2 linked regions of the Homo sapiens genome follow. The protein of the gene in region 1 purifies or fractionates together with the protein of each later gene. This does not show direct contact. Each region holds a gene or a part of one and is shown in the gene's direction. Other genes may lie near its edges.

The links.
Region 2: the proteins of ANKRD52 (region 1) and PPP6R3 purify together in Homo sapiens (affinity purification with mass spectrometry; 2 studies listed by BioGRID and IntAct, with this or other methods). This does not show direct contact.

Annotation. Positions count from the first base shown.
Region 1 is NC_000012.12:56,241,061-56,249,396, reverse strand, and holds part of ANKRD52 (serine/threonine-protein phosphatase 6 regulatory ankyrin repeat subunit C), read left to right. Parts: intron 1-526; coding exon 527-638; intron 639-830; coding exon 831-902; intron 903-1,172; coding exon 1,173-1,374; intron 1,375-1,622; coding exon 1,623-1,710; intron 1,711-1,786; coding exon 1,787-1,904; intron 1,905-3,800; coding exon 3,801-4,020; intron 4,021-4,206; coding exon 4,207-4,294; intron 4,295-4,407; coding exon 4,408-4,491; intron 4,492-4,599; coding exon 4,600-4,745; intron 4,746-4,961; coding exon 4,962-5,044; intron 5,045-5,263; coding exon 5,264-5,346; intron 5,347-5,520; coding exon 5,521-5,612; intron 5,613-6,004; coding exon 6,005-6,255; 3' UTR 6,256-8,336. UniProt on the Homo sapiens protein: Putative regulatory subunit of protein phosphatase 6 (PP6) that may be involved in the recognition of phosphoprotein substrates.
Region 2 is NC_000011.10:68,596,068-68,604,403, forward strand, and holds part of PPP6R3 (serine/threonine-protein phosphatase 6 regulatory subunit 3), read left to right. Parts: intron 1-29; coding exon 30-151; intron 152-4,273; coding exon 4,274-4,427; intron 4,428-5,795; coding exon 5,796-5,902; intron 5,903-7,274; coding exon 7,275-7,425; intron 7,426-8,336.

The DNA of each region.
Region 1 (8,336 bases):
AGTAAGTGCTACTTTATTATTATTACTACTACTACAACTACTACTAAGGTATGAGAAGACTGCCAAGGGAGCACAGAGGAAGAGGCATCTTCCCCAGGGAAGGCTGGGAAAGGCCTCACAGAGGAGAGAAGCTGGGACTGAGTTTGAGATGAACAGGACTTATTCGGGTGGGCTGGGAGGAGAAAGCATCCTAGGGCAGGGGTTGGCGTGCCTGGAGGTGGGGAAAGCATGTTGGTCAGCAGAAGGCTGATAACTGAACATCATGCTCTAGGTTCTCTAGGAGAGCATTCAGAGGATAAAGGAGGGCATTGAAGCCAGAGGGGTTCAGGGCAGACCTTGAGAAGGTAAAGTGGGTCTGGAGCTGCCATTGAAGAATGGGTAGGATTTAGAGAACCTACCTAGAGCTGAGGACGGGTGGCGGCCAGGTAGGCCTGGAGGGCCTTGGTCCTCTCCTCTGGCCCTCCCAGAACTGTGCCCTCCTGGGCTGGGCCTGTCCCTGCCTCACAGTCTACCCCCGGCTCCCCAGCTGTCTGGAGTTCTTACTGGATAACGGTGCAGACCCCTCCCTGCGGGACAGGCAGGGCTACACAGCTGTGCACTATGCAGCCGCCTATGGCAACAGACAGAACCTCGAACTGGTATGTGTTGGGGCCCGGCCTGCAGGAGGGGAGGCAGGGGCAGGGCACAGGGTTTGTGGATTCCAAAACTAAGGGTTCAATCAAATGTGGTCTTTGGATCCAGAGGCTTAGTGGGGATTACTGCGAGTCGGGGACTGGGGTACTATCTTGGGAGTTCCAGAGTCTCAGCACCTACTTTCCTGTCCTTTGCAGCTCTTAGAAATGTCCTTTAACTGCCTGGAGGATGTGGAGAGCACCATTCCAGTCAGCCCTTTGCACTTAGCTGTGAGTCCCACGTCTTTTTTCTGTTGCCTTCCTTGTCCTACCTGTTCCCAGGCCCTAACAAAGGTGCCAGCACTTGTGAAGTTATCCTTCCTTCTGCCTTTTTGTGGGAGAGGGGATAAGCACAGTGCAGGGTAGGAAGCCTTAAGGGGCCCAAGGAGCTTGTCAAGGACTAAGACCTTGAGCTTCCCAGGGACCCCAAGAGCAGAGAAGGGGAAGGGAGGAGCAGGGAAGGTCCCGAGCTGTGTGCACTGGTTGCCTGCACCTTGCCAGGCCTACAACGGTCACTGTGAAGCCTTGAAGACGCTGGCGGAGACGCTGGTGAATCTGGACGTAAGGGACCACAAGGGCCGGACCGCACTCTTCCTGGCCACGGAGCGCGGCTCTACTGAGTGTGTGGAGGTGCTTACAGCCCACGGCGCCTCTGCCCTCATCAAGGAGCGCAAGCGCAAGTGGACACCCCTGCACGCTGCTGGTTAGTGCCCACTTTAGGCTGCTGCCCTACCCTTGCCATGCCAGATCCCTCCTGGATGGGAATGGGGCTGGAAAGTGGAGTAGGGTGAGGAGAATGGAGACTTCAAGCCCTGATTCATAGCTTCCTATCCTCAGAGATTTCTCCCTGGCCCAGGTCTTTCTGTAACATTGACCCCAAGTCCTTTAGGCTTGACCTTGCCTCCCTTCTTCCTCCTGGCCCTGCCCTGACACGGGGTCCCTTTCCCCTAGCTGCCTCTGGCCACACTGACTCCCTGCACTTGCTGATCGACAGTGGGGAACGAGCTGACATCACAGATGTCATGGATGCCTATGGACAGTGAGTGTGGGCCAGGGTGGGGTGCAGGTTTTCCAGTCCTTGCGGGATCCTCACTCCTCCTCCTGCCCTTCTGTAGGACCCCACTGATGCTGGCCATCATGAATGGCCATGTGGACTGTGTACATCTGCTGCTAGAGAAAGGATCCACAGCTGATGCTGCTGACCTCCGGGGCCGCACTGCCCTCCACCGCGGGGTGAGTGAGCTTCTAGGGGGGATTGTTTGCACATGGGCCTCAGTGTGGGAGCATGGGACTCACCAGCAGTAGGGAATCCAATTGTCTAGGAGGCAAGCCAGGATTTTGTGCCGTCTTTTTTCTTTTTCTTTTTTTTTTTTTTTTTTGAGACAGGGTCTCACTCCCATTGCCCAGGTTGGAGTGCAGTGACACTATCACAGCTCACTGCAGCCTTGACTTCCTGGGCTCAGGTGATTCTCGCACCTCAGCCTCCTAAGTAGCTGAAACTGTAGGCACATGCCATCATGCCCAGCTAATTTTTGTATTTTTTGTAGATATGGGGGTCTTACCATCTTGCCCAAGCTGGTCTTGAACTCCTGGGTTCAAGTGATCCCCCCACCTTGGCCTCCCGAAGTGCTGGGATTACAGGCATGAGCCACCAGACCCACGCTGTGCCCAGGATTTTATTGAGCTTTGTGCTTGCTCCAGGATGAGTTCCTGACGTCCCCAGCTGATTTCCCTGATATCTGTGCTTTGTTTATTATTATTATTATTATTATTATTATTATTATTATTATTATTATTATTATTATTGAGATAGAGTCTCGCTCTGTCACCCAGGCTGGAGTGCAGTGGCGTGATCTCGGCTCACTGCAACCTCCGCCTCCTGGGTTCAAGCAATTCTCCTGCCTCAGCCTCCCGAGTAGCTGGGATTACAGGCGCCTGCCACCACGCCTGGCTAATTTTTGTATTTTTAGTAGAGACAGGGTTTCACCGTGTTAGCCAGGGTAGTCTCAATCTCCTGATGATGAGATCCACCCGCCTTGGCCTCCCAAAGGGTTGGGATTACAGGCGTGAGCCACTGTGCCTGGCCAATATCTGTGCTTTGTAATCACGTACAACTGAGTGCTCACCACCCAGACTCTACCTGGGATACCCTGCTGGCCCCAACCCATCGCATAATGTCGCCACAACCTAGATCCTCTTCCGTGACCACCTGTCCTAAGCTGCCTCCTCCTCCCATAAGATTTTTTGATCCCTTAGTCTCCTTCTCTCCATTTAGTCTTTCCAGTATTAACTCCAGAGCTCCAGTATTAACTCTTAGTATCCTGATTGTCTGCTGGCATAGAGAGAGTCAAGGAGGGAGATGTGGGTCCCTAATACTTAGAATTGTTGTTGTAAAGGGCCGGGCATGGTGGCTCACGTCTGTAATCCCAGCACTTTGGAAGGCCAAGGCGGGCAGATCACCTGAAGTCAGGAGTTTGAGACCAGCCTGGCCAACATGGTGAAACTTCGCCTCTACTAAAAATACAAAAATTAATTGGGCATGGTGGTGCATGCCTATAATCCCAGCTACTTGGGAGGCTGAGACAGGAGAATTGCTGGAACCTGGGAGGCAGAGGTTGCAGTGAGCCAAGATCGCACCATTGCACTCCAGCCTGGGTGACAGAGTGAGACTCCGTCTCAAAAAAAGAAAGAATTATTGTTGTAAAGACAAGGATTGAGGCCAGTGGCTCATGCCTGTAATCCCAGCACTTTGGGAGGCCGAGGCAGGCGGATCACGAGGTGAGGAGATCAAGACCATCCTGGCTAACGTGGTGAAACCCTGTCTCTACTAAAAATACAAAAAAATTGGCCGGGCATGGTGGCACCTGCCTGTAATCCCAGCTACTTGGGAGGCTGAGGCAGGAGAATCGCTTGAACCGGGGAGGCAGAGGTTGCAGTGAGCCGAGATTATGCCACTGCACTCCAGCCTGGGCGACAGAGCAAGACTCCGACTCCAAAAAAAAAAAAAAAAAAAAAAAGACAAGGATTGGAGCCCTGGAAGTGGTTCTTACTCCTGAGCCAGACTCCAGCAACAGGCCAGTGGAAAAGGAGGAGCTTTTCATCCCCCTCACACCCCCATGTTACTCACAGGCAGTGACTGGCTGTGAGGACTGCCTGGCTGCCCTGCTGGACCACGACGCATTTGTGCTGTGCCGAGACTTTAAGGGCCGCACGCCCATTCACCTGGCCTCAGCCTGTGGCCACACTGCAGTACTGCGGACCCTGCTGCAGGCTGCCCTTTCCACAGATCCCCTGGATGCCGGGGTGGATTACAGCGGATACTCGCCCATGCACTGGGCCTCCTACACTGGTACTAGACTGGGGCCTCCACAGGCACAGGAGCATGTGTTGGAGTGTGTGTAGAGGGGGACAGGTGGGTTGTTGGGGGGGACCTGGGTTGATCTGAATCTGGAAGTGGAATGGAGTGTCAAGACACAGGACAGACAGGGAACCTTGCCGTTTTTCTCCATCACTACTCTTCCTTCCTCGTGCCCAGGACATGAAGATTGTCTGGAGTTGTTACTTGAACACAGCCCGTTTTCGTACCTGGAAGGAAACCCCTTCACTCCTTTGCACTGTGCAGTGTAAGTCCCTTCTGCTGCATCAGCCCTTCTCGCGAGGGCCCATGACTTGAGCTTAGGACAGGTAGTCTACTTCCCTTGTCCTTCCTGATGACCCCTCCTCCCTCTTCCTCTAGGATTAATAACCAAGACAGCACCACAGAGATGCTACTGGGAGCTCTGGGTGCCAAGATTGTGAACAGCCGAGATGCCAAAGGACGGTGAGTGATGGAAGACTTGGGAAGAATCCCAGTTGCCTCTGGCTTCCCCTTTCTGCTTGGGCAGTATACTCTTCCCTATTTTAATCTACCCTGATCCCTGCCTTACAGGACCCCCCTTCACGCCGCTGCCTTCGCGGACAATGTCTCTGGGCTCCGGATGCTGCTGCAGCATCAAGCTGAGGTGAACGCCACTGACCACACTGGCCGCACTGCGCTCATGACGGCGGCTGAGAACGGGCAGACCGCTGCTGTGGGTGTGTAGGGGCCACTTGTGGAAGGGAGGAGCTCCCCTGGGGCATTTGCAGGATGGGTCAGCCCTGCCTGTGGAGGCTGGCTGGGGCTGGGGTTCAGAAAGCAAGAGGGTTGTCTTTGGATGTCTCGCCATCTGCAGACGGGATGCAAAGTGGAGAGCCAGGATGGCTACTGCTCTGGAGGGAGGGGTCAGTCCCTCTATCACATTTCTCTCGTAGAATTTCTGCTGTATCGAGGGAAGGCAGACCTTACTGTGTTGGATGAGAACAAGAACACGGCCCTCCACTTGGCTTGTAGCAAGGTACTTACCTGAAGTGATTGGGGGACTGCATAAGGGGCAGAGCTTGATGAAGAGAGGTAAGTCTCGGTTGCAGAGGGGACTGGGGCAGAAGTGAGGATTGTCCAGCCTATCCGACTGGTTGGGCAGCTGTTTGTCCTCCTGTTACTCTCCCCAACTCCTGCCCTGCACCCTGCCACATTTCTACTTCACAAGTCTCCACTCTCTGTTCCCCTCCCTCAGGGCCATGAGAAATGTGCCCTCATGATCCTGGCAGAAACCCAAGACCTTGGCCTTATCAATGCTACCAACAGTGCGCTGCAGATGTGAGTGCCTGGGGAAGGGGGCTCCTGGCTGGGGGAGGCCAGTGGGTGATGAAAGAGTGGCCGCTGTTCAGAGGCTCTCTGGAGCCCATTGTATTTGTTCAGCACCCTTGCCACCCTGTCTGGAGGTGGAAGGGCAGCTTAGCATCAAGCTCCTTCTTTTTCCTTTTTTCCAAGGCCACTCCACATTGCTGCCCGGAATGGTCTAGCTTCTGTGGTACAGGCCCTGCTGAGTCATGGGGCCACAGTGCTGGCTGTGGATGAAGAAGGTGGGTGGGGTCTGGGGCCCCATGCCTCTCTTGGGTTTGGGGTCAGGGACATTCTTCAGGAGGTGACTTCTTAATCTTGCTATACATGGGATTTTCTTCCCAAGGGAACTCTTCAGAGCAGGGAGCCCACACCAGTACTCTGGAGTCTCAGAGGGGAGCCTGCAGGGTCAGGAGGACTCCACACCCTAGGCTTTGACTCCCATGCCCGCCCTTTAACCCGTACTTAGAGAATCTGCCTGTCAGCCTTCCTGGGCCCTCGTCACCCTTGGATTCTGCCGCTGCTGGGTACCTGCCTGCCTTGGCTCCCTCCACAGAGAAGAGACTTCAGGGCTTGGGGGAGGCTGGCTAGGATACAGGACTCTATGCCTCAGTTCTCCCCCTTGGCCCTGCAGGTCACACCCCAGCACTGGCCTGTGCCCCCAACAAAGATGTGGCAGACTGCCTGGCCTTGATCCTTTCCACCATGAAGCCTTTCCCACCCAAGGACGCCGTCAGTCCTTTCAGCTTCAGCCTGCTCAAGAACTGCAGCATTGCAGCCGCCAAGACGGTGGGTGGCTGCGGCGCCCTGCCCCATGGGGCCTCCTGCCCCTACAGCCAGGAGCGGCCCGGCGCCATTGGGTTAGATGGCTGCTACTCTGAGTAGCCCCCTCCAGTGTCCCTCCCCCGCCGGTGGCTTGATATCTAATTCTATTTATTTAGAAAAAGTCTAAACATTTAGGGCACTTTAAAGGAGAACACGACTGGGTGGAGGGGGCGGAGGGGAAGGAAGCCCTGGGGAGCAGCTGCTCACCCCTTTGCCACACCATCTTGGCCTGGCAGGGGTCTGGGACTGACAGGGAGCACCCCAGGCCCTTGGTACCCCCAGGGCGACCCCTTCTGCCAAGTGTCCCAAAATGATTGCTAAATGCCTGGCTCCCCCACTCTTTGACTCCATCTCTTGGTTCCCTCTTTCTGCTGCCAGCTCCCCCGACTCTTCCCTGGGGACTCCTCTCTGTGTCCCCCTTCTCCCCTGCCCCTACTGCCAGGCAGATCCCCTCTTCTTCCATACCCATCACTGCCTCCCTGCTCGGCCGGTCCCTCCATCCCCGCAGCAGTGAGAAGCCTTAATTTCTGGTACTGTGTGAGCACTCTGGGGGTGTCCCCCTCCCCCCTTCAGGGGCAGCTAGAGGATGAGGGGGGAGGATATTTAGCACTGGGGCCTGGAGCTTTTTCCCCACTTCTGTACCCTATCACCCCTAAAGTTCAAATGCAAAACACTTGAAGCAGCAACTACTGTACCTGGGCCCCAATCCTGCACTCTCCCCTGGCTCCTCATATGCAAATCAAGGGCTGGTTCTGCCCCCACAGCCTGCCCCCTCCCCATTCCCTCCCACTCCTAGCCTGGCCCCTAACCACGCACTTTAACCTTGCTTCTTTCTTTTATCTTCTTTTGGGAGGGCAGAGCCTGTGGTCATTCCTGCCCTGGCTCTCCTTCCCTTGAACTTTGAGGCTTGTCATGAATTTTTAAGTAAGCGTTTTATCCTTTAGGGGAAGAAACAAATTAATTTCCTGCCCATTTCAAAACCACAGCCCTAGTATGTCCACTGTGTTTCAGGCATGTGTTTGCATGTATATGGAGGGAGGGACCATGTTCTTCCTCCTGTGCCGCCAAGCCCATAGTTTATCTGTGCTCCCTATCTGCCTCCACCTTCCGTTATGTCCAAGAGTACCCACTGCCCCAGTCACTCCTGATCTGAAGCCAAAGATGGTAGGAGGGGCAGGGCCGACAAGGGACCGTGGCTACTCGGGACCCAGGCTTCCCCTCCAGTGTGAGGAAGAAGCTCTGACCTAGAGAGAGATGAATAGGTACTGGGGCTTGGTCCCTGCCTTCCCAGCAGGGAGGAAAGATGGGATTGAGCTGGGGGCTGCACTGATAAGATTTCTAAAGTCGCACCCCAAAAGCCAAACTGGGCTGGAGTGAAGAGGGGGCAGTTTTCTCTCTAAATGTAGCATTGAATTTGGCCCTGGTCCCTTTAAGTGCTCTGTCCACCCATCTCCTAGTGCAGCCTCCTGGACAGTTGGACCCACTCCTGCAGCCCAGTGTTCCCTTCCTCACACTCAATACCTCAGCCAGGGGCCAAGACACAGAACTTGAATAGAGGTCATGCCCCCTCCGCCCCCACACTGCATCCTTGCCCAGTTTGGCTGCCATCAGTATTGTCCCCTGAGAACTGGACAGGCTTCGTTTACACAGTACAGGGTCTCCCCTGAGGGGGGATCCTTCAGCCTCCCTCCCCTACTCAAGTTTGCTTTATTCACAGTCTTACCCATCTTTTAGTTGTATACCCTGAATGTCTTGCCACCCTTGTCAAGGGTGGGCTGAGGGGAGGGGGGCGTCCCAGGGACCCCCTCCCTCCCCAACGGATACCTTTAACCATACCTCATGCTGGTTTCCAGAAGCCTGGGGTGTTGTCCAAGTCCTTATCTTTTCATGGTCCCTTTTGATCCCCTGTCTCTCTGTGTTTTGCTTCTCCCAACCCTCAGTTCCTAAATCATTTCAAGGCTTCCAAATGACCATTATTGATGAGAAGGATTGTGCAGCTTTTAGTTTTTATTTTTATTTTCAAAGCCAAAGGGCCTTGTGACGCCCCTCTTGCCCACCTCCCTCCACACCGTGTCCTCCCCTATATGACAATCAATGTGACCTCTCTTAAGGGCTGCAGCCCCCATCCCCAACCCTGCTGG
Region 2 (8,336 bases), on another chromosome or scaffold:
TTAAATACTTGGGTCTTGTTTTTCCTTAGCTCGGGGAGTACAGACAGTGAGGAAAGTACAGACTCTGAAGAAGAAGATGGAGCAAAGCAAGACTTGTTTGAACCCAGCAGTGCCAACACGGAGGATAAAATGGAGGTGGACCTGAGTGAACGTAAGTGGATTCATTCTTCAGATCAGCTGCCCTGTGTTGGAATTAGGTATTGTGAACAATTGGCAAAGGAGCAGTTCACAGCATCTGAGATGATATCTGAAGGAAAGGTTGGGTTGAAGCGTGTTGTCAAGTGAATTCCTCTTGGAGGTTTAAGTTTCAGAGACAGCTTCAGGGAAGGAGCACAGAATGCATTTGTGGATAAGGTACCTCCCCTTCCTGGTAGGAAATGAACGTCAGCTGTGTGGGTCTGGCTGGAGGACAGAGCCCACTGCTAGGTCAGTCTTCTGGCTGTGTACCCTGTGTGCTCTTGCAGAAGGAAAAGGCCCTGTGTTGGTGGGAAGAGGAGGACATGGTTGTGTTGTGTGGCTTCGTGAGTGGAATCAGCCAGGGGACGCAGCCTTAGCTTAACAAGCATTTCAGTGCGTTCTTCGTAGTTGATTTCAGAAGCTCACAGCCTTGAAACTTGTCCAGCTGAGTGCTTGCTTGTGCCCTGCTCCTTGCTAGGAAGACTTGAGTTAGCTGGCCTTTTAAAAATACTTCAAAAACTTCTAAAGGTTTGGGAAACAAACGTTCATGTGAAGGAGCCATATGGGCTGATAGCGAGGCTTGCCCCAAGCCTGGCCAGTCTCTGATTGCCCTGCAAGGCCTTTTTTATGTTCATCCCAGAGGCTGAAGCCCAGCTAGGGTGGACCTTGTGGTGACTTCAGAGCTAGATGGGACCAGATCAGTCATCCAGCAAACTGCCACATGTTGCAGATAAGGAAACGGGATGGGAGAAGAAGAGAGATCTTCTTTCTGCTGCCTGTTTTCCAGCCCACCCTCAGGAGGAGGAAGTGGACTTTTCTGTCCGTAATTCAGTTTCAGTCAACATGCCTTTGTCAAGTTCCTACTGTATGCCAGGTGTTAGGCCTGTAACTGTGAACGGGCCACAGACTCTGCCTCCAGGGGCTTGGGGTCGGCTGGGGAAGCAGATGGGCAGTGCAGGGGAATGGGTACAGGGTGCTAGAAGAGGGGAGCCTTCCATTAGGCCTCTTTGTAGAGGCAGGTGGGTATGAGGCTGAAGGACCCGTAGGGATTTGCCCGTGCGAGAGAGAAAACAGCTAATCCAAATGCCCAGAACGTGCTGTTTTGCATGGCTCGGGGATGAGGTGGCGGGAGCGAAGGCCAGAGGCCAGATCAGGAGTTGTATTCTGAAGGTTGTAGGGAGCCCTTGAGGATTTGACTAAGAAGATCATTATTGGTTCTGTTTCAAGACATTCATGGCAACAGTGAAAAATGGACGAGAAAACGCATGGTAGAGACAGGAGAACCATGAAGACATTGAACTGTTACACATGAGAAATAATGAGAACTGCAAGATGGGCTCCAGGCAGCAGGGAGGTGTGAGGAGGAGACAGGGCAGATGCCCTGATCTGTTGGCTCTGGAATCTGTAGGGTTTGTTGTTGTTGTTGTTGGTTTTTTTAATGTACAGTTCAAGGTTGGGTGCAGTGGCTCAGGCCTGTAATCCCAGCACTTTCTGGAGGCCGAGTCAGGCGGATCACTTGAGGCCAGGAGTTCGAGACCACCCTGGCCAACAGGGTGAAACCCTGTCTCTACTGAAAAAAAAAAAAAAAAGCTGGGCATGGTGGCATACACCCATAGTCCCAGCTACTCGGGAGGCTGAAGCAGGAGAATCGCTTGAACCTGGGAGATGGAGCTTACAGTGAGCCAAGATCATGCTGTGCACTCCAGCCTGGGCGACAGAGTGAGACTCCATCTGGGGAAAAAAAAAAAGTACAGTTCAGTAGTATATTCACACTGTTGTGTAACAGGTCTTTAAAACTTTTTCATCCTAAACTAAAACTCTGTACCCATTAAACAATTCCTCATTTCTACTTCCCCAGTCCCTAGCAGCCTCCATTCTACTCTCTGTTTCTCTGGGGTTGACTAGTCTAGGGATCTCATATAAATGGAATCATACAGTATTTATCTTTGTGACTGGCTTGTTTCCCTTAGCATAATGTCTTCAGAGTTCATCCCTGCTGTGGTGTATACAGGATTTCCTTTTGTTCGAAGGCCGAATGACATTCTGGAATCTTTGGTTCTTTTAGCAGGCTGGGTATGGTTAAGTGACAGGGAGGGAAACACACTTGGCTGGACTGCGTGCCGCTGCTGCTGTGACTGTGGGCCTGGGTGTAGGGATAAGCAGCGAGGAGGCGAGCACCCTGGATGAGGTTCGCGTTTACCTACCTCCCGGGGTTAAGTGTGGCAGGGAACCAGGCCTCCTGCTTCTCTGTTCCTTGGGAAAGACAGCTTTTGCATCTTCAGATCTCTGGAGACACAAGTGGGTAGGGTTGGGGAAGATTCTCTCTCAGGGCTTCAGGGCTACAGGGTTGCCCCAGAGAGCCTCTGCCATTCCACCAGTCTCTGTGGCTTCTGTTGGAGGTTTTGTGGACATTCAGAATCATTTAAAATGTTACACGGACTCTGAGGAGCTCATCTGGGAAAGACTATCTCAAAGAGATAACAGAAAAGTCATTTGTGTGTAATATAATTTAGTTGTAGAGTAGAACTCAGATAGAATGATTCCAGAGCTTTGCATAGAGTGGGCAGGCAAAAATAACTGTCAAGTTGACTTTTTGGAGGTTTCAGGTGAGATTTTCAAACATTCAAGCATTTATTCCTTCTTGGTGTCAGTGGAGCCCTGTGACACTCACACAGGTAGGTGGGCAAGAAGCATGGAGCGCACCCTAATTAAATGCCTACTCTGTGCAGGCCCTCCTGTGATCTTTGCTAAGTGAATAGTCATTATGAAATCAAACAGATGAAGTCAGATATCTTGGGGAAAGTCACAGTCAAGTCTGTCTTTAAACTCAGAACATTTCTATTCTACACGGGTACTTCTTAATCTTAGTCACTTGTGTCTGGGTTAAGCCCTTAAATAACTTATACCAGTTTCCCTAGCATTCCTTCCTGCAACCTAGAGATTCCTAATTATGATAATATCCCTGATGGAATGCAGTGGTTCCCACATCTGGCTTGTCCCCAGCAAAGAATTGAGGATTCAGCACTCTGTGAAGGAAAAGCATGGTGTGCAGTTAGAGCAGATCCACAGTGACCTGACTTCATCAGAAGGGACACATGTCTGAGGAGGTGACATTTAAGGAGAGACCTGCAGATTAGACCCAAACTTGGCCAGCAGGCAGCATAGTAAGAAGAGCCCCACAGACCGTAAGTGTGCTCAAGCAAGTCCTGCCGCTTCAGCCTCTGAGGCCAGACCTGGTTCTGCAGGACTTAGGAAGCCTAACTGCAGTGCACTGCAGGGAGCCCGCAGAATGGGCGAAGTGCAGTCAGACCCGGACTGGGAAGCATTAAGGTTATTTCTAGTTTATTGGAGTTGAATAATCAACATGTTCTTTTTTTAGAAAAATAACCTTTTTACTTTTGAATAATTTAGATTTATAGAAACATTGCCAAGATAGTAAGTCTCCATATATCCTTCACTTAGCTTCCCCAAGTATGAATACAGCCATGGTACATTTGTCAAAACTAAGAAATTAACATTAATCCCTCTTTGTGCATGTAGCTTTGAATCTCTGTGTAGTATTTCTTTTGGAACAGTTGTTAGAAATGGGAGGTTTGAGGCCAGGCGCGGTGGCTCACGCCTGTAATCCCAGCACTTTGGGAGGCCAAGGCGGGCGGTTCACGAGGTCGGGATATTGAGACCATCCTGGCTAACACAGTGAAACCTGTCTCTACTAAAAATACAAAAAATTAGCCAGGCGTGATGGCGGGTGCCAGTAATCCCAGCTACTCAGGAGGCTGAGGCAGGAGAATGGCGTGAACCCGGGAGGCGGAGCTTGCAGTGAGCGGAGATCGTGCCACTGCACTCCAGCCTGGGCGACAGAGCGAGACTCCATCTCAAAAAAATAATAATAAAAAGAAATGGGAGGTTTGAGAATGTGGGATCATTGTTAGAGTGCCCTCCAGGTGGCTGTGCCCTGTCCGCTCCTGCCCTCATTGGTGAGAGTGTCTTTCTCCCACAGCTCCAGTCTCTTTTGCTAATGTGTTTTTGATAAATACCTTGTGGTACATGAAACGACTGAAGTGTTTTCCAAATAGAATTTCTCCCCTCTTTTTAGCACCCAACTGGTCAGCTAACTTTGATGTCCCAATGGAAACAACCCACGGTGCTCCATTGGATTCTGTGGGATCTGATGTCTGGAGCACAGAGGAGCCGATGCCAACTAAAGAGACGGGCTGGGCTTCTTTTTCAGAGTTCACGTCTTCCCTGAGGTGAGCGAACATGTGCTGTCTCTACACCCTTCCACGGGGGACCTGGGAATGGTCAGGTGTTTGCTGTTAACGTGTGTTCTTCACCTTGACTGACTTCCAAGTTGAATATACTGCCCTGAAAAAGATTAAACATCAGCATACTAACACAGCTCTGTGTTGTAAGAAGAACAATCACCATCTTCCTTTCCTTTCCTCCTGGATTAATTGGAAATGGGAGTAGTTCTTGAACAAAGTAGCTTGTGAGGATGCGGTCCCAGGGAGTTAGCAGGACGCAGCAGAAGATGCATCTCCGTGAGCTTTTCTGGCTTCATAGAGCTGTCAGGACAGAATTGAGGAGAAGAGGAATGAGGTGAAGCCAAGAAATCCTGACAGGCACAGCACCTCTGTGTGGGGTGTGGCAGGCAAACAAAATGGATCTTGAATTCAGTAGATAATATGAACTTACAGTTCACTTGCAGCTAGTCCAGTGCTGTCAATTAAGGGCTCCCAATCATTGGTAACTCGGAAGATAGGAAGACAAGCTGTTTTGGGCTGACAGTTAGTGTCTTAGACAAACCAAAGAATAGGCTGAAACCCATGTTGCTTTGTAGTAACCATAGTAATAGCATTAAGTTACTACTCAGAGGTACAAGTGAGATTTGTGAAAAATGTCTCCAAAATAATGAGTTATTTCGTCTACCCCGCTTTTCAGTACAGGACATACATTTCCGCCTACTCCTTTTTTTGGTCTGTTTATAACCCGAGGATAAGAGCCTTTGGTTACTTGAGGGTGTGATTGAAGCAGCTTGCTTCTCTTTACCCTCTGTGTGCACGTCTCTGAGTTTGTGGGAATGAGGGATAAAAGAGGAAGTGTAATGATCTCCCTCACCCCTACCCCTTACTGCTCAGGCATTTGGTGTTTTTTTACTATGTTTCCACAGTTCCAACAACAAATATCATTAAGAGGGCCAGTCTCTCCCAGGCAGTGTGGCTGAAAATAAGTAAAGGTTTTTGTAAAACCAGTCAACCTGATAAATACCGTTGCCATTGCACAATGTACGTCTTTGCTGTTCAAGCTCTGGGAGCCTCCTAGTGACTATGGTGGGATGAGAAGTTGGGACATGATGAGCCTGTCTAGAATGCTTTACAAAGTCCCTGTCTTACTGCCTTGCTGGCTTAACAGAACATTTGCCTGCCCGCACTCATGTCCTTCTTCAAACAGCTACTGGCACTTAGATCCATGTGTCACTGGAGTTTGTAACCCAGTGACTCTTACACAGATGCTAATGTCTCCTAACAAAAACTTACTTGTAAAGGCTTATTGTGAATCTTGGGGTAACTGAGGACCATTCCCTGCTGCTAATATCTGAATTTTCTCTTTTTTGAAAGCACAAAAGATTCTTTAAGGAGTAATTCTCCAGTGGAAATGGAAACCAGCACTGAACCCATGGACCCTCTGACTCCCAGTGCGGCTGCCCTGGCAGTGCAGCCAGAAGGTGCGTGCAGAGAGGCCTGGGTACACGCCAGGGTCACGTGGCTGCTTTGTCAAACCAGACCTGATTCTCAGGCTCAGGGGCTAGTGGAGCCCGGGAGTGAGATGGTGGGTCTGATGTCCACAGGGCAGCTGATGAAAGAAATTGTGCCTGTCCTTCTAGAACCACAGCATGCTGACTCTGGAAAGAGTAAGGGCTCTAAGTTACCAGGCATGCAGTGTGCAGATTAGGAAACTGAGGTCTAGAGGGAAGAAGGCCTAAGCCCATAGTACCCAGGGTGAATAAAACTGGAATTAGACGTGTGCAGCCAAGCCTGTGTGTAGTTGTCCCTTGGAGTTTGCTTTGCTCAAGCATGTAGGTGTATCTGGGTTTGTTTAGAGCTATGGGGCTGGTTATTTTCACTTCGCCATTGTAAGCAGATTGAATAGTCCTGGGAATCTCTAAAGTTCCAGTGGGTTTTCCTATTACTCTACCTAGTCAAATGTGTTCCTTGCACGGCCCTGAACTGTTTTCACCTTGATGGACGGGGCTTTGGGAGGAGGGGGATGCTAGCAAAGGGAGTGTGATGGGAACCAAAAGGATGTGGAGGGCACGAATCATGAGGTGGGCTTAAGGAGTGAGTTCTTAGAAAATGAAATGAGGTTTTGGTAGAGGGTGTGAGAACCCTCCTTCCCAGGGGCAAGGGAAAGGAATAAAACCAATAACTAATGCTGGTTTCATCATCCTCCTGAACATTTGATACAGATTCCCGCATTTGACTCCTCAGTGGTTCTGTAAGTGGGTGCACTGATCCCCTTTCCTGGATGAGGAAACTCAGGTTATAGATGAGGTTCCTTGTCCAAGTAGTCTACAGCTAGGAAGTGGTGATGTCGATGTTTGAATCCAGGAAGCCTCACCTCAGCCAGGCTCATCACCTATGTTGGCTTCCCATTAGAGAACAAAGAAACGATCCACCAGCAACACCACAAGAAAGTAATTTTTAAAACAAAGCAAAGCAAATAGAGCCCAACTGAGGAAAACAAGTGAGTAGAGGGTAGAGTGTGTAACTGCCTGCTCTGCCCCACACTGGAACAGTTAGGAGCACAAGTGTCTGCTGGGAGAAGCTGGGTATGGAGGTGGACGCTGAGCTGGGAGGGATGTAGGCGACTTGCTAGTCTCTAGTAAAGAAAACCCATGAAACCCCTCTTTAGTGGGCATCTTTAAGAAGTCTCTCCCCATCAAGAATGTGGCCCAGACAACAGCAGGCAGAAGCCATCTCACTCTTTTTTTTCTTCAAGCAGTAGATGTCACGTTGGGTAGATGGGTTTGTACAGTGGTGGGGTGCCAGTTCCTTTTCGGGCTTGCTGTGTGTGACCATCAGCTGTGTTCTTTTCAGCGGCAGGCAGTGTGGCCATGGAAGCCAGCTCTGACGGAGAGGAGGATGCAGAAAGTACAGACAAGGTAACTGAGACAGTGATGAATGGCGGCATGAAGGAAACGCTCAGCCTCACTGTAGATGCCAAGACAGAGACTGCGGTCTTCAAAAGGTAACCAGGGGTGAGATCCTGCTGGTAGCTTCAGGTTATTGGGAGGATGGTGGGGCAGAAACCTCAAACATTAAAATTTTTAATTTGATTCAAATGAATGTTCAGATACTAGCTTGATGTCTTTCTGTTGTCTCCATTAAACACAATAAATCTTAATGAAGAGATGGAGAGTTTAGGCCCCTAAGTGCCTTTTCCCCCATAAATGTGTTCAGAAGACTGTATTTTACATCTAGCAGTTTGATAGAACTATGAGAATTGATAAATCTTTAATCACAATAGAAATTGGCTTGTGTAACAGGCTACAGAGCATGGCCCATGAAAACCGGTTTCAGGTCGACTGGTTTTACAAAAACCTTTACTTATTTTCAGTAACATACAGATGATTATCTCAGGACATAATGCAGTCATGAAAATTCAGTAGCAAAATGATAGCTTTAAAAGAACGTGACCCTTAGAAATTCACTTCTAAACTCAAAAAAGGAATTGTAATGGATATTAAAAACCTAAAACTGAGAGAATAATGGGAAAAATGTCTGTCAAAACTTAAGGACTGAAGCTAAGCCTGTGCTTAGAGCTTTAGTCTTAGAGACCATTCCAGCCATTACAAGAAGGAATGCCTCCCTGCTTATTGCGAGGTCACTACAAAACAAGGAGTGAAAGAAGAAAACTGACTGTAGACTGATTTCATACATGAGCAATTATTCTCAAAACTTAAGTTAAAAGCTAGCAAACCAAATGTAGCAATGTATTTTAAAGTCATGACCAAGGATATGTGCTCCAGTGACACAATGTAAACACCAGTGTGTACATGGTAAAAATTATTCAGAGTAATTCCCAGACAAAAGGAGAAAAGCATTTGATTACAAATTAAAGCTGTTCATGATTTTCTTTGCAGCCTAGGAATAGAAAGT